Linked DNA regions of Homo sapiens: regions 1 and 2 are each linked to region 3. The links come from fine-mapping of genetic effects on gene expression. A gene starts in region 3. Each other region holds a variant in brackets. All regions are shown on one strand. Distances are from middle to middle. Region 1 overlaps UBP1 (upstream binding protein 1). Region 2 overlaps SUSD5 (sushi domain containing 5). Region 3 holds the start of UBP1 (upstream binding protein 1).

What was found.
Region 1: its variant is fine-mapped to the expression of UBP1 in whole blood (INTERVAL, PIP above 0.99).
Region 2: its variant is fine-mapped to the expression of UBP1 in whole blood (TOPMed, PIP above 0.99).

The regions. Positions count from the first base shown.
Region 1 is chr3:33,411,053-33,419,234 of GRCh38, forward strand. UBP1 (upstream binding protein 1) reads right to left here. Exons shown (of 16, transcript NM_014517.5): 3 at 5,706-5,782; 4 at 1,670-1,775; 5 at 529-635. It also overlaps a transcript of FBXL2 not described here and the pseudogene RNU7-110P. Among named protein-coding and RNA genes, the nearest start is that of UBP1, 25 kb to the right of the region's middle. The variant C/A (reference allele first, on the strand shown) is at 4,949.
Region 2 is chr3:33,149,070-33,157,251 of GRCh38, forward strand. It overlaps SUSD5 (sushi domain containing 5), which reads right to left. Exons shown (of 5, transcript NM_015551.2): 5 at 974-4,964. The coding sequence ends at 3,673. Among named protein-coding and RNA genes, the nearest start is that of CRTAP, 39 kb to the left of the region's middle. RefSeq lists an enhancer at 3,746-4,945. The variant T/C (reference allele first, on the strand shown) is at 3,577.
Region 3 is chr3:33,436,217-33,444,398 of GRCh38, forward strand. UBP1 (upstream binding protein 1) reads right to left here and starts at 4,189. Exons shown (of 16, transcript NM_014517.5): 1 at 3,520-4,189. The coding sequence starts at 3,632. RefSeq lists silencers at 2,101-2,395, 3,194-3,428, 3,348-3,397, 3,628-3,947, 3,998-4,107 and 1 more and enhancers at 3,647-4,146, 4,478-4,667, 4,878-5,167.

The DNA of each region.
Region 1 (8,182 bases), 25 kb before region 3:
ACAGAATGAAACTCCATCTCAAAAAAAAAAAAAAAAAAGTGCTCCAAGAATAACTAAAAGGGGGCGGAAACTACTAAAAACTGCTAAAGCCAGGTGATGGTTACATGGACAATTAGTCATCATTATTATCCTATTTGTAGAGGTTTGAATTTTTCAGTATTAGAATGTTTTAAAAATAATGCTAGAAGGAATTTTAAAACCTCAATCTTTTTTCAATCGTATCCTTTTAAATAGCAGCTTGTGTTCAAGAGAAATACATCTCATGAAAAATAGACATTTTCATTATTGGGACTACTAGTGGTAAAAATAACATTTGAATAATGCTTTACATATCATAGAATGTCTTCATATATGTTAGTTTAAAATAGGGTGAACTTACTAGATTAAACCTAACTATGTATATAGAAAGACACTACAACATAGTTTATAAATAGACATTTAAAGGAAATGATACTGTATCAAAAATTCAATCCTACCATGACCTAAATAACTAGGTTAGTAAGCTTCTAATAATGTAAAAATCCAAACCTGAATGAAAGCAGAGGTGCGTTTTGCTGGGTCCCACAGAAATTCAACCGCATTTAACTGGCTTGGATTCGTCCTTGTGTCAATTATTCCCACAGACATTGGAATATCTATGTTTTAAAAAGAAGTTACATAAAAACATCCACTTTAAATAACTTAAAAAACTTACAACTTACTATATTATGTTCTAATGAAATAACTGTAACTGCTTTGAACTCTGTCTTTCAATGGTCTCCATGATCAACTTCTTCAACATCGAAACCCACCCTAAACGAATATCATCGTTTCCCCTACCATGGTTTGTATTTCATTTTTTTTAAGAATATGATAAGGCTGAGCGTGGTGGCTCACGTAATCCCAGCACTTTGGGAGGCCAAGGCAGGTGGATAACCCGAGGTCAGGAGTTTGAGACCAGCCTGGCGAACATGGTGAAACCCCGTCTCTACTAAAAATACAAAAATTAGCCAGACGCAGTGGCGCGTGCCTGTAGTCCCAGCTACTCAAAAGGCTGAGGCACAAGAATCACTTGAACCCAGGAGGCGGAGGTTGCAGTGAGCCAAGATCGCGCCACTGCACTCCAGCCTGGGCAACAGAGCGAAACTCCGTCTCAAAAAAAAAAAAAAAAAAAAGATAGATGGTTTACAATTAAACGGTTTCAAAATCATAAAATTCCAGGTTCACATTAGTTTAGCACCAAAAAGCTACTTGACGTTTTAACTATAAAACAACTCTCTCGGTTCTTTATAATACGAGGATGGGAAAAAAATAAAAAGAAAATAATGTATATACATACATACATATATATGTATGTGTGTGCGTATGTATATATAGAAAACAACTCTCAAGACACAAGATCCTAGAGGGGCATGGTGGCGCGCACCTGCAATCCTAGCTACTTGGGAGGCTAAGGCAGGAAAATCACTTGAAGACGGGAGGTAGAGGTTGCAGTGAGCCAAGACTGTGCCACTGCACTTATCCTGGGCGAGAGAGCAAGGCTCTGTCTCAAAAAAAAAAAAAAAAGACACAAAATCCACAAACACCAAAACTTTCCCCACACAAGTAATTCATGATGCCAACACAACACATTACTGGCTATAGCTAAACAATACCCTCATCTCCATGGTCTTTTGATCACTGCCTGTACCTAAATCAAGAAGTCTGTCTCCTGGGCGATTCCACTTCCATCCTTCAAGTTGCTGATGCTCTGTGTATTGTAGCCGTCTGTCATGGAATACAACCCTTATGATGCTCTGTGGAATAAGTGCGGAAAATGAGTACTTTTAAACTGCTCCAGCTAAAATGCAGGACCATTTCTACTTCTTATGTGTTAACCTGTAGCAGTAGAACACATACAACTAGATTCTGTTTTAAACATTCTGTAAGTGAACTCTTTTGCCCTTGGATACCTGGATTACGGTACAATTATTTGGTGCAAAGAATTATAACTCAAAAACTAAAATTATAAATAAAATGGTAACTTAGGTATTGATTTTATAAAATGATTTGTTATTGCAATTCAAAATTAAGGTTCTTCCCACTAAAATTAATGAGCAAGAATTACATTCCTATAAAGAAAATACCAGATGCACACAGGAGTTATTAAAAATGAAAAGATGGAGACAGAGAAACCCAGAAACAATGGTAAAACTTTGTTAATTTAAAATAACAGTTAACAATTGAGTCTTCTGGCTGGGTGCGGTGGCTCACACCTGTAATCCCAGCACTTTGGGAGGCTGAGGTGGGAGGATCACGAGGTCAGGGAGATTGGGACCATCCTGGCTAACACGGTGAAACCCCATCTCTACAAAAAATACAAAAAATTAGCCAGGCATGGTGGTGGGCGCCTGTAGTACCAGCTACTTGGGAGGCTGAGGCAGAAGAATGGTGTGAACCCGGGAGGCAGAGCTTGCAGTGAGCCAAGTTCGCACCACTGCACTCCAGCCTAGGTGACAGAGCGAGACTCCATCACAAAAAAAAAAAAAAAAAAACTTTGAGTTTTGAAAAAAAAGAACTGGCATAAAACAAAAATCCGAAACACTGCCCGCTGCCTTGAAAAAGTGAACTTAGGCCAGGTGCGGTGGGGCTCATGCCTGTAATCCCAGCAGCCAATTAAAAGCAATTTTTTTCTTTGAGATAAAGAGTACCATGTGGGAGACATTTATAGGGCTCAGTGGCTGCTTTATTCCCATCTTCCTTACCTGCACCCACACCTGCAGGGCCTGTCCAAGCAATTACCCAGCACCCACTTCACACCATCACCTGACCAGAGCAAAGCTCTCATAGTGATGGTGCATAGGCTAGTGGTGGCCCCTAAGACACCAATGCCAGTGGTTCACATCTGCTAGCCAGCTCGTCTCCAGAAAAAAGTACAGCACAGAAAATATCACAGTTCTAATTGTTCCATACTCAGTAAGAACCATACTAACTACACATATTCAGATGAAAACAGTATTAGAATACAGGTATTAGACTTCAGAGCTTTACTAAGCCCCATTCTAGAAGGTTGGACTAAAATACTAAAGATAAAAGGAGGACCAAAGTTAGGAAATTACAAGATATATAAGAAAAATTCTAGCATTATATAGCTTTTAGAATTTGTCTAGCAGGTTTTCCAGTTTCTACCAGAAACCCCTACCCAAAAAAGAACGGAAAGGAAAAAAGAAAGGAATGAAAAGGAAGGGAGGAAGGGAAAGAAAAAGAAAGAGAGGGAGGAGGGCGGGAGAGAGGAAAGGAACTTCTTATATGAAACAGGGAGAAAATCTCGTTATCTGAAAGTTCTCCCTAAAAGGAGATTGACTGCATTTTCAGAACTAGCAACATGTGATGGGGCCCTAACAATAAGACTAAAAGAAAAAAATAGGACAAAAAAAGACGAAAACAGAACAATCAGAGAAAGCACATTGCTAAATATGTTCAGCACATTCAAGAAGTTCCAAAGCACCTTCGCAAACCTATCACTTGATCCCCAAGGTTCCCCCACAAATTTAAGTAGTATAGTCAAAGATCCTAGGGCCAGGAAATAAAACTCTAGAAATTTGAAGCATATTTTAGGGATTCTCTAGCTAAAAAAAGGATGTAATTTCCAAGAAACTCATCCTGCAGTCTTTGGTAGTAGCAGACAGTAGCTCTTAATCCCAGACAAGCTTACAGAATATAACTGCATGCCTGGCACATCCACCAAAAATCACACAGCTGGCTTATCAAACAGAAGATGAAGCCAATGTAAAATGCTTTAAAAATGAACCCTTTTCAATCAGTGGGCTAAATATTTAGATACTGATGCCTTCAGAATAAGTAACCTTGTCTAGGTGGAATATACTAGTGTTATGTCAGCAAAACATTCACTGTGCATTTATAAGTTAATGGTTTTGCTACTAACAGTAGTTCATTACGTCATAATGAGGTGTCATTTTTCCCTTAATTTATTTGCTTGCATTAATTTTGTATATTAAATGTTTTTACATGTTTTAATTTGGAAGTAAATACAAGGAAGTTGAACTTAAAGCAGTCATACAACTTTACCCTGCCATCCCAAGTTAATCTGACAGGTATTTTAACCAGCTTGCCAAAATATTTTAAACATTAGGTATCACCTATCAGACTAATTATTTCTAAATCCTACCACCTATTCAGGGAACTGCCCTGGAAAGCCAGCTTGTCTCCACTGATAAATGACAAAGACAATTGCTTCAGAATTGATTTTCTTCAATGCCTTGATGGACACTGAATTTTGGCATTTGGTCTGGATGTCAAAGTTTGTTATATTTTCCTCAGAACACTGAATGGTCATGAATGAAGAACTGAGTTAAAATTACAAATTAGTAAATTCTATAATCCGGCATACACAAAAAAAGCACAAGGGGAATAGATGAAACAAGTCTGGCAAATTGTGGAGAATGTTGAAGTTGGCATGAGAACTTATGAGAACTCATGATATATACCAGATATATTTATTATATACCACCATATGATGGATATATGTGGATTCATTGTACCATTCTCTTTACTTCTGGGTATGTTCAAATTTTACCATAATAAAAAGTTAAAAAAATTGTTCTAACATTTTTGGATCCAGTTTTAAAGACCTCAGTATAGGGCCCATCAAATCCTACTAAATTTTATTATGGAGTTCACAATTAAAACAACTTTCCAACCCTTTTACACTGATACATTAACAAAAAAAAAAACACAGAACAAAGAAAGACAAAAACAGAACAATCAGAGAAAGCACATTGCTGAATATGTTCTGCACATTCAAGAAGTTCCAAAGCACCTTTGGTAACCCATCATTTGATCCCTAAGTAACCTTCCAGGTGCCCTCCAGGTACTGGGCAGCTGGCTTTCCCATACATGCCAAATTAGTTAACACACCAAATTTAGATTGCCTGAATCCAATTCCCACCACAAGGCTGCCCTTCCCATG[C/A]TTACCCACTAAAAAGGCAGATCCACAGAGGGCAGGTCTTTCCAATAGAATGCCCCTCCACACTGAGGGCCCAGCAGCACCTGGGCCCTGACATGCCACTCTGTGGGAAGATGGAAGGATCAAGAGAACTTGTCTCTTGCTAACACTTAGTTAGCCACATGAGGTTTTACCTTTCCCCAATTAAGATTCTTTCATTAACCCTGCCCTGTAATGCTATGGAATTTATAACTAGCCATGATGTATGATGGATACAGGCTAGGAGGGGCCAGGGGGCAGGGATGGTTCTGAGGATACATCCTAAAAGAACAGGTTAGCTGGAAAACAGCTATGCCTCCTATACCTAGGATGACTGACTTCTTCATTCAGATACATGAGTAGGGTGAACAGAGATTTCTATTTTTTAAATGAAACTTTACAAGGTAAAGGATTTTTTAAAGTTTTATGCCAACATTGACATTCTTCCCCATATTATCTTTTACTTTTAGAGAGGCTTATAGGTTTTTGTTGTGGTGATGAGTTTTTTACCCCATAACTACAACTAACTTTTCTATTGCTCCTTGATTTCCAAGGGTCTTTCAAAATTACTCTACCCAATAACTGCTATAATTCCCATTTTACAGGTGAATAAACAAAATATAGCTCATAAAGTTAAAAAGTTGTAATACAACAATTATTGAAGTGAAATTAATTTTTTTTTAAACAAAAACTCATTCAATCACAGCAATATCCATTGGGAATTAAAATGGACTGTCCTTACCTTTACTAATTTTCCATTGATCTCAGGCATATCACCCATTTTCCGATTATCCAGCATCCGAATTTCATATGACTGACCTATTTAAAGAAATTGTGTATAAAAAACAATCCTTATAAAGAACATCACTTTGCTTAACATAATTCAAAATGCATGTTTCTCAGAACATACATTACACAATGATAGTTTGTTAATTTGCTACGGAAGCAAATTCAGGTTGATCCTTCTCTTCCCTGAAAATCACACCAACCTTCTGTTCTAACATTATTACAGGAGACAAGAGTTTCTCTGTCAATTTATCTTCATCTGCCACTCTCTTACACTAAACTTTTATTATGCTTGCATTACCTAAGACTAATTTTTGTAACAGCTTTTCTGAGATATAGTTTACATACCATAAAATTCACATTTTTAAAAAGTGTGTAAATCATTGGTTTTCAGTATAGTCAGAGTTGTGCAACCATCACCACTACCAGTTTTAGAACACTCGCATCATCCTAAGAAGAAACCTCTATTAGTCACTTCCCATCCCTCCCCCACCCCCCACCTGGCCAACTGCTAGCGATCACCAATCCACTTTCTGCCTCTACGATTTGCCCACTCTGGATACTTTCATAAACAGAATCATACAATATGTGGGTATTTGTGCCTTGCTTTTTAAACTTAGCATAATGTTTTCAAGGTTCACCCATATGTAGTATATATCAGTCCTTTTTATTGCCAAATAATATTCATTCCTTTTTATTGCCTAATACTATTCCACTGTGTAAAGACTAAACCAAATTTTGTTTATCCATTCATCAGCTGATGGATATTTGGGTTGTTTCCACTTTTAGTGTTTATTAGAAAACACAGATATTCACACATCAATCTAGATAATTAGGAAAATGCTGCTGTAAAAAAATTAATAATGTACTCCAAATCCACAAAAAATGATTTCTGGATTATCTGTTATTAAATAATAAAAATGACAGTATAATTTGGCATGCAGAAAATCAGTAAAAATTAAAGAATGCTTATAATATCACATGAAGTTGAGAATCTTTATAACTACCAACACCTTGTCCATACTCCCAGGGGGCTTACAGAAAAATATACAAAGGATTCTAGATTATAGGGTCAAAATTCAACAAGGGGTTATCAAAATACAACTACATCACTCCAAGGCTGGTGAAGGAAAACAGCATATATATAGTCTGTTACAAAGAAAAGTTGCTTACATTCATTCAACAGACAGAGAAACACTAAAAAACACCTGTATGGGAAGAGACATTTTTAAAAAGTTAAACTAAGACACAGATTGGAAGAAGATATATGCACTATATTTAACAATGGATCTATATTCTGAAAACAGAAATAATTTTCAAAATGAAGAATATAAAGTTTTGAAAAATACACCATTTATGTTTAAAATTACACTCAACCTCACAAGAATTTAGGAAATAAAAATCAACAAAAGGTTTATGCTGATTATCAGATCAATAAGAAACATTAATTTTTATTTATTTATTTATTTTGACAGGGAGCTTCGTTCTGTCGCCCAGGCTGGAATGCAGTGGCGCAATCTCGGCTCACTGCAACCTCCACCTCCCAGGTTCAAGCAATTCTCCCTGCCTTGGACTCCTGAGTACCTGGGATTACAGGTGCCCGCCACCACGCCCAGCTAATTTTTGTATTATTTTTTAGTAGAGACAGGGTTTCGCCATGTTGGCCAGGCAAGTCTTGAACTCCTGACCTCGGGTGATTCACCCGCCTCAGCCTCCCAAAATGCTGGGATTACAGGCGTGAGCCACCGCACCCGGCCATAAGAAGTATTTAATTAGGCTGCGCGCAGTGGCTCACGCTTGTAATCCCAGCACTTTGGGAGCCCGAGGCGGGCAGATCACCTGAGGTTGGGAGTTCGAGACCAGCCTGACCAACATGGAGAAACCTCATCTCTACTAAAAATACAAAAATTAGCTGGGCGTGGTGGTGCATGCCTGTAATCCCAGCTACTTGGGAAGCTGAGGCAGAAGAATCGCTTGAACCTGGGAGGCGGAGGTTGCAGTAAGCTGAGATTGCACCGCTGCACTACAGCCCAGGCAACAAGAACGAAACTCTGTCTCCAAAAAAAAAAAAAAAAAAAAAAAATTGCTAACAAATGTCCAGTATCCCTAGAAGAAAAAAATGAGCAAATGAAATGGACATGTGGGTTCACAAAAGGAAATGCCAACAGTTCTTAAACATATTGAAAGACAACTTCCATTAGAGAAATGCAAATTAAAACCACACTGAAATCATTTTTCACCTATCAGAACAGTATAAATCCCTCAGTTTTCTGCTGTATTAGATGTAAAGTGTAACAGAAAGAAGAGTTGAGGATTACTCCTGATTTTTGATCAAGGAATTGAAGAAGAGTCACCATTTCCTGACCTCAAAGACAGCCAGGAGCTGACTTGAGGCAGAAAAATCAAGAGTTGGCCAAGTGGAGTGGCTCACAC
Region 2 (8,182 bases), 290 kb before region 3:
GGACACTGGCTGCATTCTCTTTGAGGCCAGAGCCCTTGTCCTGCAGGGCCTTTCCTATTACTGAGCTCTTGTTGGGTTCCATAACAGGTCCCCACCATCCCCTGATGGTTCCCCTAACTTTCCCCACACCTTTGTGAACAGTCCCTTCAGCTAACCCTCTAATTACTCCTTTGAGTGTCCTGTGAGTTAGGAGAAAGGGGATAATCAGTTCTCTCTTAGGCCAGTGCTTCTCAAGCTTTACCATTCATGCCCACCACCTGGGCATCCTGTTAGATGCAGATCCTGATTCAGCAGTCCTGGGGCAGGGCCTGAGATTCTGTACTTCTAACAAGCTCGCAGTGCCTGTGCTGCTGGGGCAGGAGCCACACTTTGAATAGCGAGGTCCCGGGTGTTTCGTTGCAGTGAAGTAAGTGGTCTCTGGTTGGGGCAAGGAAGAGGGAAGTAGGGGGGGGCGGGGCAAGGAAGAGGGAAGTAGGGAGGGAGGGGGGGGCAAGAGTGCCACCAACTTCCCTAAAATCCTGCTGCAGGAGGTAACATAACTGAGAGTTAGGTTTAGAAAGGGCAGTCTTAGATCTTAGATATAGCAAGTATTAAGACATTATTTTCAAGATTACTAGAGATTTTTTTTTTGAATGGAGCCTTGCTCTGTCCCCCACGCTGGAGTGCAGTGGCATGATCTCAGCTCACTGCAACCTCTGCCTCCCGGGTTCAAGCAATTCTCCTGCCTGATCCTCCTGGGTAGCTGGTACCACAAGCATGCTATCACGCCCGGCTAATTTTTGTATTTTTAGTACAGAAAAGATTTCACCATGTTGGCCAGGCTGGTCTCGAACTCATGACCTCAAGTGATCTGCCTACCTCAGCCTCCCAAAGTGCTGGGATTACCAGTGTGAGCCACTGTGCCCAGCGAGAATTTTTTTCTTTTTTTAAACCTTGGTGCAGTAGCCTAGAAATAAAATACATTCAGCAACTGTTGGGGCAATAATTATTTATTTTAAATATCTCAGAAGCTTTGTGTTAATAGAACCCCCTCCCCCAATTTTCATGAGCATTAAACATTCACCATTCTCAAAACATGCATGACATACAATTTAGATTTACATTGTTTTAATCATTCCCTTTCAACATGAATTTTTAGATTCTATAACATTAATTTAGAGGATACCACACCAATAAGAACTTAAAAACTGATGTGTTGGGTTTATTTCACAGTCCATGTCTACAAATAAAACATTTACCTGTATTAATAATTTGTAATAAATTTATTAATACACTGTATTAATAATTTGTAATAAATTTATTAATACACTGTATTAATATTGCCTATTTGTTGGTATAAATCCAATGTTCTGGGTTATTCCACAATAATAGTTGCTAACACAGTCCCAATGCTGAGACAGAGGTTATTTTATATAGTTAAAAATAGAAAAGTTATCTTGCAGTAGATTAGGATCTAATTTATAAATATATACAGTCTCTGGCTTTTATTCTATTATGTTTTGCTTTGGCTACATGCAGAAAGCATTTTATTCCTATTGTTCTTGACTTCGTCTGATGCACAGGTATTCTAGTTGGTACCTTCAGGCTTTATTTTACCCAACTATGGGGAATAAGATCTTTGATTATGCTGCCTCTCTTTACAGCTACTTCGCCTATTACTTTTCCAAAGCTTGCTGAAAAGAGGTGGCAGGGTAGAAAACATGTTGCGAATGTTTTTTTTCCTTAGGTAAAACACCACCAACAATTTTTCAATCATAAAAAAGATCAGGATTTCCCTCTACCACACAAAAACACTTAGACTGCTATGGTGTCTCAAAATAAATGTGTTGCATTCATCACTTTTTACCACTGATAACTATTTCTAAGAAGGTGATTCATATTAGAAAAATATAACATGTTTCATTTCTGTGCCAACATACAGGAGACTATTGCAGGTGGCATTTAGGCAGCTTCAAATGCCACCTCAGCTGCACACAGCCATGCCTGACTTCCACACAACACACACCACATACTCATCTGTGCCTTTAGGGCTTCAGCTGGCCTCGAAGTTCACATTTGAGATTATTATAAACCAACAGGCTCTCAAACTTGAGTGCATATCAAAATCACCTGGAGGGCTTGTTAAAAACAGAACTGGGCCCTACTCCCAGGGTTCCTGTTTCCTGAGTCCAGGGTGGGACTAGAGAATTTGCATCTCCAACAAATTCCCAGGTGACGCTGATGCTACTGGTCTGAGGACCACACTTTGAGAACCACTGCCATAAACCATCCTCGCTGAGCCACCCTAAGATGATTTAGATGCTACGAAATGGGTTACCCAACAGACAGGATGGATTCTGTTTCCACAGAGCTCCCAGTTTCCACACTAGAGAACAGATCAGCACAGATCATTTCATATTCTTTCACAGATTCTTCTGCTTCTCCATCAAGTATGTGCCCATACTTGATAACCTGGTGTTCGGCCCTCTGAAAACATTTCTTTTTTTTTTCTCCCGTGTCATTCTCTCTTACTGGAGTTCAGAGAAATGGTTAATCCTGAGAGAGGAAACCAAGGACTGAGTTTTGTTAGTCCTGGCAAAAATTCCAAGACATTCCTAGGCACAGACTGGTCAAGGACAACTAGGCCACTGCTTCTGAGAGGAAATGGTACTTACTGGTACAAAGCTAACTTTGTTTTTAAAAAATAATGGCAAATCCTTAACCATGAAATATTGAAAATAAAATAAAATAAATGACAGACTGTCCCACAGAATGGAGGGAACAGAGGGGGATGTGTGTTTCTTCACTCCTCAACTCCCCCAACAAAATGTCAGTCTTAAATTCTAATTTCAAGAAACAATGAAAAAAGAAACCTCAAAGCTTCTAGACTGTGTCCTGGCTCTTGGTTCATCTGCCCTCAGCAACATCACAACATTAAAAGGAAACAACCCATTATTCTTCCATATTCCTCTCCCAATAATTCAATATCCATGTCCTAGATAATACTGCTCTCATACACTTGGTTTATCATGACTATTTATAAAATTTCAGGGCATGAAGCTGGTGATTTTCTTTCTTCAAAAAGGTAATACTGTGATGTGGCTCACACCTGGAATCCTAGCACTTTGGGAGGCTAAGGAGGGCAGATCACTTGAGGTCAGGAGTTCTTGACCAGCCTGGCCAACATGGTGAAACTCCATCTCTACTAAAAATATAAAAAAATTAGCTGGGCATGGTGGTGCATGCCTGTAATCCCACCTACTTGGGAGGCTGAGGCAGGAGAATTGCTTGAACTTGGGAGGCAGAGGTTGCAGTGAGCTCAGATCGGGACACTGCACTCCAGCCTGGGCAACAGCATGAGACTCTGTCTCAAAAAAAAAAAGATAATACTGTGATGAAGGAAGAGGCGATTTTTGACCTCACACTGGAAACAGGGCCCAAGCACAGGTCTGGGATTAGTGTAGTCAATTCCAGGGCAGATGGTGGAGGAGACATTGACATGAGTGATGATGTCACCAAAGCCTCCCTGCCCTCCCAGGTGCTCCAGAGACACTTCTCAGCCTATAAAACAAAGGGCTGAGGAAAAAATGATGAGCC[T/C]CAGTCCACCTGCGTCATGCTCTAGTGAATTATCGTGTGATGTGTCACAGTTATTTTCCTCCCAAGTGGCTTTGGGAGAACCCACTCCAAAGGTGCCTAGACCTTCTCCATCTCGATCTGCTGGTGGTAGTGCCGAGCCTGCCGCTGGCCAACATTCAGCTTGTACACAGAGCTCTTGTGCTGGCACTTGCGGTAGCCCCACACCATCCCCACACCTGCCAGGAGCAGCAGTAGGCACAGGACGGTGACAATGGTGGCGATCACAGGGCCTCTGCTGAGGCCAGGACATCCGTCCCCCACACACGACTCCAAGGTGGGATGAAGCTCCTCACTTGCACCTGGCCCGGGGCCTTCCTGTCCAAAGAAGTCTTCAGACAGCAGGTATGGGAAGCTATCCTGGATCTCAGGAACAGTGGTTTCTACTGGAGGCTGGGTGGTTGCCATGATCGTTGAGGGGATGTGGTTAGGTGTCTGCTTGACAGTGTTCACTGTTAATATCTCCAGGGTGGAGCTGGTGAGCTCATAGGACAGGGTGGCCATGGGAGATTCCTCTGTGATGAATCTCCAGGGTAGAGTTGACTGGTACTTCGTCAAGTCACCATCCCCAATGCCCTCAGTCTCGGAAGCATTCACGGGTCTGAGCGCCAAAGCTTCCACATCTAGCATTTGAGATGGAAGAACTGAACTATGGGTCATGCCCTCGCTTGGTGTGAGGGTGCTACTCTTGGGCTTCTTAACTTCCACAAGAATGGGCTGATCAGGAGTAACTAGGACGTTTTCATCCAGCCCTACTGACCCATCCCCTCTGTCCCCATCTTCTTCCTCTTCTGCCTCTGTCTTCCTCCAAGCCCCCTCTGTCACAGGGTAGCCATCTAACCAGGACTCATCACTGCTGCTCACCACTGGATCTCCTGCCTTGCTGTCATTCTTGCCCACAAATGGCCCCGAGGGACCATCAGTGTTGCCGTAGATCACCTTGGTTTCAGGTTCACCTGGGACCAATTTTACACCACTGTGGTTGTCTCCAGCAGAAAACTGCTTTTTGGTGTCATCATCCACCTCCTTTTCCAACCCAGGCTTGTGGAAAGCCTCAGCAGGAAACCAGAACAAGTGCTTCTGGAGCAGCCGTGATCCTGGTGAATCTGCGGGGACACTGCTCCCAGCACCAGGCAAGCCTGTGGTTGGCACAAAGACTTTATCCCGGGCTATGTTTTCTCTCCCCACAGAAATGGAGACCAGACGGTCCTGTTTTGGAGCCTCCTCAGAGGAGTCTCCCTGACCCCTGTCCTCATCTGCCTCTGTCCGGGAATCCTCCATGAGCTCTCTGAATGACACAGATCTGTCATCAGGGAAGTTATCTTCATAGTCAATGTGTGCCTCAGCCTCATCTGGAAGAAAAGAGGGAAAAAACCTCATTAGCTCCAAAGGCACAGAGCCAGTATAGAACATAAGAAAAGGAAATTAAAAGCATAAAGGCTGGGACAGAATAAATAATACTGTTATTATTCACAGATGATATGACTGTGTATCATAGATAAACCCAAATAATCTACATATGAATATTACAAGTAACTAAAATTTAACATCTGAGCTTAGGCCGGGCATGGTGGCTCACACTTGTAATCCCAGCACTTTGGGAGGCCTAGGCAGGTGGATCACTTGAAGCCAGGAGTTCGAGACCAGCCTGGCCAACATGGCGAATGCCCATCTCTAATAAAATACAAAAAAATAGCCAGGCATGGTGGCATATGCCTGTAATCCCAGCTACTCAGGAGGATGAGACATGAGAATCGCTTGAACCCGGAAGGCGGACGTTGCAGTGAGCCAACATCGTACCACTGCACTCCAGCCTGGGTGACAGAGTGAGACTCAAAAACAACAACAACAAAAACAACAACTCAAAAACAACAACAACAAAAAACATGTGAGTTTATTAGGGATACTAGGTCTACAGTAAATATAAACATCAATTGTATTTCTAAATATTGTCAATAAACAGAAAATTAAAATTTAAAAGGATGCTATTTACAATAACATTAAAAAAACCAAACACATAGGAATAAATCTAACAAAAGATGTTCAAGACTTCTACATGGAATGATATAAGACATTGCTAAGCAAAATTAAAGAAGACTTAAATGAATGGAGGAATAGACCATGATCATGTAGTAGAAGGCTCAAGATCATTAAGTTGGCAATTCTGTCCAAATCGATCTATACAGATCTAATACAATTCCAATAAAAATCTCAGACATTAACTGAATGTTAAAGTTTATGGAAATGCAATGGATGGAAGTTTATGGAAATGCAATGTAAGAATAGACAAGGCGATATTGAAAAAGAAAAAGCCGGAAGACATATGCAAAACATTTCAAGATTTACTATAAAACTGCATTACCTTTTAAGGCTGTGGTATTGGCACAAGGACAGATAACTGGATTACATTAAAATGAAGATCCTCTGTTCATTAAAAGCTACCACAAAGAGAGTTAAAATGCAAGGCAGAGTTAGAGAAGCTATCTGCAACACATATGACCTCCAAAGGGCTTGTATCCAGAATTTAAAAAGGACTCCCACAAATCTATACTAAGTAGACAGACAAACCATAGAAAAATTGGCAAGATAGTTGACTTGGGACATCACCAGAAAGATATCAGATTAGTCATTAAACATGTGGAAAGATGCTCAACCTCACTAGTAAGAGAGAAATGTTAATTATAGTCATAATGAGATACCACTGCATAGCACCAGAATGGCTAAAATTAAACAGACCGACAATATCAAATGTTAACTAGGATATACAGCACTGTTAGTGGGAGTGTGAACTGGAACAACCACGATGGAAAACTGGGCATCTCTACTAAAATTGAACATATGGATGCTCCATGACACAGCAATTCCACTCCTAAATATATACACTTAACAGTAATGTGTGCATATGGGTACCAAAAGACACGCCTAAGAATGTTCATAATAGTAAAAAACTGGAAGCAATTCAAATGTCCATTAACTGGTACATCAGTTATGGTATACTCAATGCAAATCTGTACATCAATAAACATGAACCAACCACTGCTTCCCACAACAAAATAGATGAATTGCATGGCCATAATGTTGAGCCAGGCACAAAAGTGCACACTCTGTGTTGATTCTATTTATATAAAGTTTAAAAACAGGCAGAATTAATCTATGGATGTCGGAACTCAGGATGGTAGTTACACTTGGGTAGGAGAGAAGGGGTGATGACTGGGTATGGTACAAACAGGACTTTTAGGGTGCTGGCAATATTCGATTTCTTCACCTGTGTCAAGGCCTAAATATCAGTGTTTATTCTTGATAATTCATTGGTTTGTTGCCTTATGATTCGTATGTATTTTATAATTAAGTTCAAAAATGCATCTTTTTTTTTTTTTGAGAGAGAGTCTCGCTCTGTCTCCTAGGCTAGAGTGCAATGGTGCAATCTAGGCTCACTGCAACCTCCGCCTCCCGGGTTCAAGCGATTCTCCTGCCTCGGCCTCCTGAGTAGCTAGGATTACAGGTGCACACCACCACACCCAGCTAATTTTGGTATTTTCAGTAGAGACAGGGTTTCACCATGTTGGCCAGGCTGGTGTCAAATTCCTGACCTTGTGATCCGCCCATCTCGGCCTCCCAAAGTGCTGGGATTACAGGCATGAGTCACCGCGCCCGGCCCCCAAATGCATCTTTTAAAACACTGATTTGCTCTCTGTAAAACTTCCAAGTCATGAGATGATGCTGTAAAGTATTCTGAATTCAACTGAATAAGAAGCAATAGAGCCCCACAACTAGGAGACCAGAATGTAAGGACAGCCCGATGAGAGGGGAATCAACTGGTCAGGAAAGCTCAAGAAGCTGGTGTCCTCAGAAGACAGCAGCAGCCCTTTGACCTTCCCCTCTCTCAATGGTCTTTGAAAGCCAAGTCCTACTGGAAGATACACTTAAATTATTAAAACAGACTGCTTCTCCCACTTAACTTTCAACTTCGGAAGAACAAAATGCACAGAGCTCCAGAGCCAAGGTCTAGATGGAATGCTGAGGTGTCATGTGGTGCATTCCTGGGCTCTGAAACTAGATTAGTGGGTATCTGGCTTATTTCTAAAGGCTGTTAGAGAATAAGACTCTGTATCTTGCTTATTTAATGACTGACAGAGTTATAAATAAAAGTTAACAATCTTTTCTGATCTGCTCCTGACATGTAAGCCCATTCACTTTACATGTGTCCTCAGTCAGAAAAGGGAAACAGTGGATGAAGAGCAAACATCACTGACAAATATCAAATGCATGCGTGTTTTATGCTTAGAAAAGGACAGCCCAATCACACCCCATTGTGTCCTGTTCATAAAACCTCACACAAAAAACATATCAGATGGCTGGACCATTCTAATGAGCCTTGTAGAATTCACATACAGGCTCCCAGGGCTCAGTCAGGCCCTTCACATTCCCTGTTATATCCTCATTTCAAAACCTGCACTGACCCACTCCTTCATTCAACAGACCTCACTGAGTGCTGACTATGTGCTAGAGTTTGGGATCACTGGTGAACAGGATAAATACTCCCTCCCCCGTTGGAGCATATGGGACAGAA
Region 3 (8,182 bases):
CAACCAATTAACAAACGTATTACCTCAGTTATCACTGTGGTGAGAACATTAACATCCACCCTTTGCATTTTTCAAGAATACATTGTATCATTAACTACAGTAACCTTGTTGTACAATAGATTTCTTAAATAAACATTTTACCTTTCAATCAACATAGGAAATCTGTCATTAGCTCAAAGCAGTTTTGATTTAGCAAATTATTTGTAAACTATGGATGTACCTCCCATTTCAAAATACATAATGTATATCTTTTGTTTCAAGAGATTTATACCACAGCGAAGTTTAACAAACAGGGCTCAGACAATACCTTTTTTAAAGTAATAATTTAATATCAAAATTTTTAAAAGAGTAAGCTATACAAGCCATTACTTCCTATAACCTTCAAAAATATTTCAATATTGAGCCCCCAAATCCTAAAAATTAACTTGGCTACAGATGATAAATTTCATACAGTGAGATGGAAAGAAAATTACCAGGTGGTCCAAAGACCCTCTTTGAGTTTTAATGAGTATTATTTTTTAAAGTCATTTGGTTATCTACTCCATACTTCACAAAACGAGAATGACCCAGATTTCAAGTTACCATGAGTTTCAGTCTTCACTCTGTGTGGGGGAAAAATCAGCCTTCATCTGTTTAAGCCAATCACTTTAACATCTATGACCCTCAGATAATGCATTTACAGTATAAGAAAAGGAGTGGTCTAGACTCTAAAAGGTTTCTAAGGAAGGTCTCTATCCATCTCTAAAATCCTGTTACTGTAACCAAGATTTTTAAAAACATTTATGACCTGCCTCATTTCAAATAGAATCTGCTGCAGTTCACATCTCACATCCAAATATAACCACCAAAAAAGACTAAACAAAAACAACAACAAAAAAGTATAATACAACAGCACACACAGAACACATGAGAACCAGAGCCAAAAGAAAAAGAGAAGCAAAGGTAATGTTAGTAATTAGCCCCAATATATTCCCAATATTACCAGCCTACATTATTTTACACAAACATATTTTTCCTACTGTTTTAAGAGAAAGGGGTGGGGGGAAACAACAAAAGAGAAGGGGGTCTCATTCTTGCCCAGGCTGGAATGCAGTGGCTATTAACAGGTGCAATCATAGCACACACTACACCCCTGAACCTCTGGGCTCAAGCAATCTCCCACGTAGCTAGGTCTACAAGCATACCAAACATCACACCTGCCTAATTTTAAGTCAGACCACTGACAGAAGCCATTTCTTCCTTTCAAACTATCCTCCCAAAAGATGAGGAAACCATTCCCTAAGAGAAGTCTTTTAAGAAATACCTCTTGTTTTAAGCCATCCAAAAAGCAAATACAGTAAGCATGTTTCATTTTGAAAGAAAAATAGAAAGCTGCCTACAAAATCAATTTGTATCAAGAAGTCATTTTTCCAGTAATTTCTTCAAGTTTACTTCTTGAACTTTGAAAGATAAGCTTTCCTTCCCACTGGATGCCAGAGGAAGTGACTGAATGCTCAAGCTGGCCATTCATAGGCACTCCAACCCTCTCAGGGCTCCAGGGCCAGGCATGGAAAGTACAACTGCAGTCCAGGGAGGCCTGCAGCAGCTAACGCCTTCTTCAGATTTTCTCCTTATCGAGTCAATTTTGGAATTTCCTTAGTTTGAGAATTTCAAACAAAGGGCCTTGAATTTGCAAGAGGCAAGCACTCTCATCTCTTAGTTTTTGAGGACTCAATTAAATACGAAAAAAAAACCTTCTTAAAAATGGTAATTACCTTCAAACTTCTTTGAAAATTTAGATTAAATGACACAACCAAAAAAGAATTCAAGGGAAAATTATCCCTGTAAAGAGTACTGTAGGTTACACAGAATTACAAAGATCTCACACATTACTTTAAAAATACATGGTCAGGGAAAGGTTTAAAATCATCAAGATTGTACTTCCTTTTCATGGAAATAAACCATACACAGAAGTTATTACATTAATAAGTTGGCTGAATCACTAAATCAAAGTACAGGTCAAATAAAACCCTAGAAAAAAGTAAAAGCTCAAAATAGCTATCAATAAGTAAACTTTTCAGCAGCAAACTTTCATTTTACCATAAAAGAGAAGCAACTGAGGAGAGACACATATTGAACTTGCTTCACGTGCCTCCTTTGCCTTGACTATAAGCCTCGTGTTTCCAGTAGAGAGCTAAGGAGCAGAATGGCACTAGAGGAGTGCGTTTTCACTAGAGAAGCACTGCCTCTAATACTCCCCTCTGGGGTGACTCCATGACTTTCAGTAGCTCAATTTCCTCAACAACTGAAACAGCTGTTTTAGAAAATAAGCCAACTCATCTACAGGCCTTAAGTTATACAACTGCAGAGAGAAGAGGTGCCAAGTTCAGGAAGCCCAACAGAGACCAAATCAGAGCCAGACGCTGGGGAACTCCAGGTTTAATATGCCTTCCACTACTCACTTCCACACTCCAAGAAATGTCTCCAACCTTTCTGAGAGTTCTTTATGGCTCAGAATTTCTCCTTAAGATTTAAAGACCCAATTACTTCAAGGAGCAGCCACCAAGATTCCAGGCCAGCTTTAACCCAGAAGTCCTCCTCTAGAGCTGCAGTAAGATGTATGAATGCTACTGGGAAACTGTAGAGCACTTCCAAAACATCAGACATTTTCTAAAGAACAGAAAGCTACACTTAATTCACATTATTGAAAAGCTGCCAAACCACTGATTTTTAGACTTTATTAGTCAAGTCAACGCTATGGTAAACTATATTTCAATAAAGCCACTAAAAAAATACAGAGTTTCCAAATTCCTAACAGTTAAAAAGGATAAAGGGCGGAGACTAAGCTCAGATCTGTTTCAATCTCTCCATATTAAAATGAATGACTGCTGGTACAGACAGCAGAGACTAAACAATTATTTGTGGTGCAATCACTGCATCTTAAAACCCTCAAGAGGAAACAGCCTGAGAGGGTAGTCTCCAAAATGAGAAACTTCACTTTGAGACAATCAAAAGAACAAAACGAAGTCACAGTGCTACTCCCACCGCTGCTCTTTCAATTATAATTTACTAACATCAAGTGATTAAAATCTGCAGCCAGAAAAGATCATAATGTAGGACAACAAAGTAGGAACTGATCCCAAAACGCTAGACAGTATTCTCCCAATATAAGTGCTGCCTTTTCGTACAGTGTATTCTAGCTCCAATGGGACTTGTAAATCACTTATAAGGAAAAGAAGCCCCTTCCCCCACCAACCCAAGCCATCCTAATAGCTGGGCGTGTTTTACAGCAAATATGAAGCACTCAGGAGCGGTCCGAGGCCGACGCTTGCGGGGCCATCCTCCCCCACCCGCCCGTCACCAGGGCGAGCAGAGGCCTTTGGGGTTCCATGGCCCCCGACCGCCACGCGGCAGGACTCCGACCCCGCAGCCCAGGAGGCCCGCGCACCTCTGGGAGCAGCCGCATCTGGCAGAGACTCAGGGCTGCGCAGGCCTTCCCCAAGGAGACAGAGGCTTCTCCCCGCCCAGGGAGCCCAGTACCTCATGCTGTAAGCGCCGGCGCCCAGTTCCTGCCCGATGCCCGAGAGGCTGGCGTCGAAGTCGTGCACCAGCCCGGACTCGATCACCTCGTCCATCTTGAGCACCCAGGCCATCTTCCGGCCTCGCCGTCGCCCCGCACACCGCGGCCTCCGCGTCCAGGGCGAAGGAGCCGGAGCTCCGCTGGCGCGTCCTGGGGGAGGGCGCGGGTGAAGCCTCCGGAGGGGCGGCGAGTGGTCACCAGCGGCGGCCGGGACGAGAGCTGCGGGGGCCCCACTGGCAGGGCACGACGAGCCCAGCGAGCAATTGCAGCGGGAGCGGCCGGGCCGCCGGCAGCGCCACCCTCCCGCGGACACCGGCCCTGCGCCTCATGCCGGCGCCGCCGCCCAGCCCCCGCGCCGCTAGCGCTGCAGCCGCCGCCGACCGCCCCGCCCGGGGCCCCCCGGTCGCATCCTCCTCCGGGACCGCTGGGAGGCTGGACCTCGGGCCGCTCCGAGGACCACACGGGGGCAAGCCCTCCGCCCGCCCGTCACCCGCCCCCAAGCCTTGACTCCTTGCCCCCGGCCCGCCCAGGCTCTAGCGCCACACCGCCCCGGCCAACCCCGCCGACGCCGCTCTGCCGGCCGGACGCTGGCTTCAACGCGACTCCGACTTAGGTTCACGCGCCGCTTCCGCCTCCCCCGGCCCCGCCCCGACCCCGCCCCGGCGTTCGCCCCACGCCTCGGCCCTCCCCGTACAGCCCCGCGCTTAGGGCCACTCCCCGCGCCTCGCGGCCCAGGAACTGTCCAGAGAGTGCAATGCGGCCCCGCCCACGCGGCTGTTCCCAGCCGGGGTGGCCTCGCTGCGTCCCCGCACAGCAGCCCAGGAAGAGGCGGTGCCAAAAGGGCTGCCAGTTTCCGCCCCTTCTAGCGAGCGAGATGATTGACAGGCCAACTGAGCAATACCTGCAAGGGCTTGGACGAAGCTCCCGTGAGTCTCTGTGTCCCCCGACTAAACAACCAATCAAAATGTTCTTCACCTTGGGCGGGCTCGAAGACGGAATTTGTTGCCAAAAGAAAGAGTTCATTGGACTGCATGGTAGAAAGCGACCCAAAACGCCACTTCCGGAGGTGATTTGCTCCTCTGTGGTATTTCCCGGTCGTCTCTGCTTTATGCCCTCTCTACCGAGGGAGTGAGCGGTTTGCACCCCATCTGGTGACAGAAAAGCCAGTTGTGCAGAAAACCTTGATTGGCGTGAGAATAAGCCAATCAACGCTCCTGAGAAAGAGCTCTGGAAAGACTTCCCCTATTGGTTGCATTGCCGAGAGCAGCTTGGCTATCCTGAGTTGAACTAGCTGTTGGTCATCCTAAGGGCAGGCGGTCTCCTGAAGTTGGACCGAACCATTAGGACGTGCCACAGTAACAGCTACGCTGCTCAGAAGGCCCGAAGGGTCTTCCTCAGCGACCTAGCGTGGGCACGCGCCACTGCGGCCAAAAGACAGAAATCTTTTTACCGGAAGAGATGAAATAGAAAGCAGGAGCCAGAGGCTGACTTACAGAGCCAGTGTGCGGATCAGAGTTCCTTAGGAGCGGCTGCTGGCGCTTGACGGGCGGAATCCTTGCTGAAGAGAACGTCAAGGCCCGGGCTTCGCCCTGCATCGAACTTACTGCCTAAGAATAAGACCCAAATGCTGAGCGCCCCGCCCCAACTTGCCAGTTTAAGTGCAAAAATACATAGATTAAAATGTCAGCCTAATAAAGCAGTGGCACTGAGCCAGAAAAAAATAGTCTCAACGCCTGTGTGATTTAGATACTAACTTACAGGCTCACGCCTGTAATCCCAGCACTTCGGGAGGCCGAGGCGGGTGAATTAGTTGAGGTCAGGAGACCATCCCGGCCAACATGGTGAAACCCCGTCTCTACCAAAAATAACAAAAATTAGCTGGATGTGGTGGCGCGCCCATGTAATCCCAGCTACTCAGGAGGCTGAGGCGGGAGTAAGGCTTGAACCCGGGAGAAGACAGAGCAACACTCGGTCTCCAAAAAAAAAAACCACAAATTAACTTGGAGAATGTTTTTCTCTTTACACAACATTTTTGCAAACATTTCATTTGATAAAGCCATACTTTAGAGATGAGGTAATTCAGGTGAAAATGTGTAAAGATTACACAGTGCAAGGTCACACAGTAAGCAGGTAAACCGGGGCTATTTGACTAATCCAGATTTCTCTGATTCCAGGCGAAAACATTAGATTGGCCATCAGTTCAGGAAGCTCCATTCCACTATTACAAATAAATCTGCACAAACAATTGGATAGTCAAGGGAAACATTGGTCTCATTGGGGGTCTCAGATATGTCTTCATTCCATGATCTCACCTCACTTGCATAACCTAGTCTATAACCAGATTAGCCAGGCCTACTATTAGTTGTTGGAAAATTTGGAGAAATGGAATTGGGGGAAGATAATTCTCTGGTTTTTGGAGAGAGTGTAAAAGTACAAGCTACCATCAATTTTTCAATCAGGCTGTGCCCTAAGGAAGTACTGGGTCAAATATTTAGAAATTGAGCCTCAGGCTGGGCAGTGTCTCAGGCCTATGATCCCAGCGCTTTGGGAGACCAAGACTTAAAGCTTGGGAGGATGGCTTAAGGCCAGCAATTGGGAGACTAGCCTGGGCAACATGGCAAGATCCCGCTTCTACAAGAAAAAAAAAATTAGTTGAGCATGATGGCACGCTCCTGTAGTCCTAGCTACTTGAGAGAGACTGAGGCAGGAGGATCACTTGAGCCTGGGAGTTTGAGGCTACAGTAAGCTATGATTGTGCCACTGCACCCTAGCCCGGATGACAAGATGAGACCCTGTCCTTAGAAAAACAAACAACAACAACGAAAAACAAAAAACAAAAAAAAAATTAGAGTTCTGGAGGATAGAAATAAAAGTGTTGGCTGGTCATGGTTGCTCACAACTGTAATCCCAACATTTTGGGAGACCAAGAGGGGAGGATCTCTTGAGGCTAGGAATTTGAGACCAGCATGGGCAACAGAGCGAGACCCCTGCCTCTACAAAAGAAAAATTTTTTTTGAGACAGAGTCTTGCTTTGTTGCCCAGGCTGGAGTGCAGTGGTGCGATCTCAGCTCACTGCAAGCTGCGCCTCCGGGGTTCGCACCATTCTTCTGCCTCAGCCTCCCGAGTAGCTGGGACTACAGACGGCCGCCACCACACCAGGCTAATTTTTTGTATTTTTAATAGAGACAGGGTTTCACTGTGTTAGCCAGGATGGTCTCGATCTCCTGACCTCGTGATCTGCCTGCCTCAGCCTCCCAAAGTGCTGGAATTACAGGCATGAGCCACCGCTCCTGGCCAAAAAAATTTTTTTAATTAGCCAGACATGGTGACCTGCACCTGTGGTCCCAGCTACTCCAGAGGCTGAGGTGGGAGGATCACTTGAGACCAGGAGGTCAAGGCTTGCAGTGAGCCATGATAATGCCACTCTAGCCTGGGTGACAGATGAGACCCTGTCTGGAAAAAAAATAGAAGTATCAAGCAGCGCTAAATAGTAATGTCATAAAGAGACCAAAATATAAAAGAAGGATAGTGTTAAAAGAAAACTTTAGACAAATTAAATATAAGAGTTTAATTTTGCAAAAAAAAGATTTGTCAATCAGGTAGCCACCCCGAACCAGAATATGTTCAGAGAGACTCCAACACTGTTGCATGGTGGAAGAAGATTTATGGACAGAAAAAGGACAGTGATGTACGGAAAACAGAAGTGAGATATAAAAACAGCTTGATTGGTTGAGTGTATTATTTGAACAGTTGGCCTCCTGTAATTAGCCAAAACTCAGCGATTGTTATAATAGGTTATAGACCATTTATACATCCAGTTAGGTTACAATTTACTGTGTACAGAGAAACCTTTAGGCTGAACTTATAAGGAGGCAACTTTAGGCTAAACTCAATTTAACAATTTCTCCCCTTTTGTTCAACCTCTCAACTTGACCAAAATAGAGAGGTTGACCAAAATCCTAGACATTGACATTACTTTCTGACCATTGTAAATGTACTTATCTGGTCGCAAATCCCATTGGGAAATAGTACAACAGTGGGTTTTGTAAGGTGCGAATAAGGACTTTAGGTTATTTTCTGGTAAGCGTTAGAGTAGAGGATACTTTTTTTTTATTATGTTGGAATTTTTATTTATTTAAATTTTATGGACATTTTATGGATGATTGTATGTAAACATTTAAAACTTTTGAAAGTCCTTAGTGCACATAGGAGACTACTATTAAGATTACCAAGAGGATAATACCAAGACTTTGGAGTATGCCCCTTAGCCAGGGTCAACATGAACTAAACTAACTAAAATCAAATAGATCAAAGAAAGAGCTAGATAAAAGATCAAGCTGTTTTAACCAAGCAGCTTGTTTATTAATCCCCTGTAACTGAATCTCTATAATACCTGATATGTTCATCTCTGTGCAACAAGAAGTGTGAGCAACTGCAGATACTTCTCTGTATCTGCATACAGAGATACATACTTCTCTGTATGCAGATACAGAGAAGTATCTGCATACAGAGATACATACTTCTCTGTATCTCAGTAAGTAATATACAGCAATTCCGTTATCTAGCACAACTTTAGCAAGAGAACTTAAAGTCTGTTGTGCCATGGCCTTTGCAGTAGAGTCA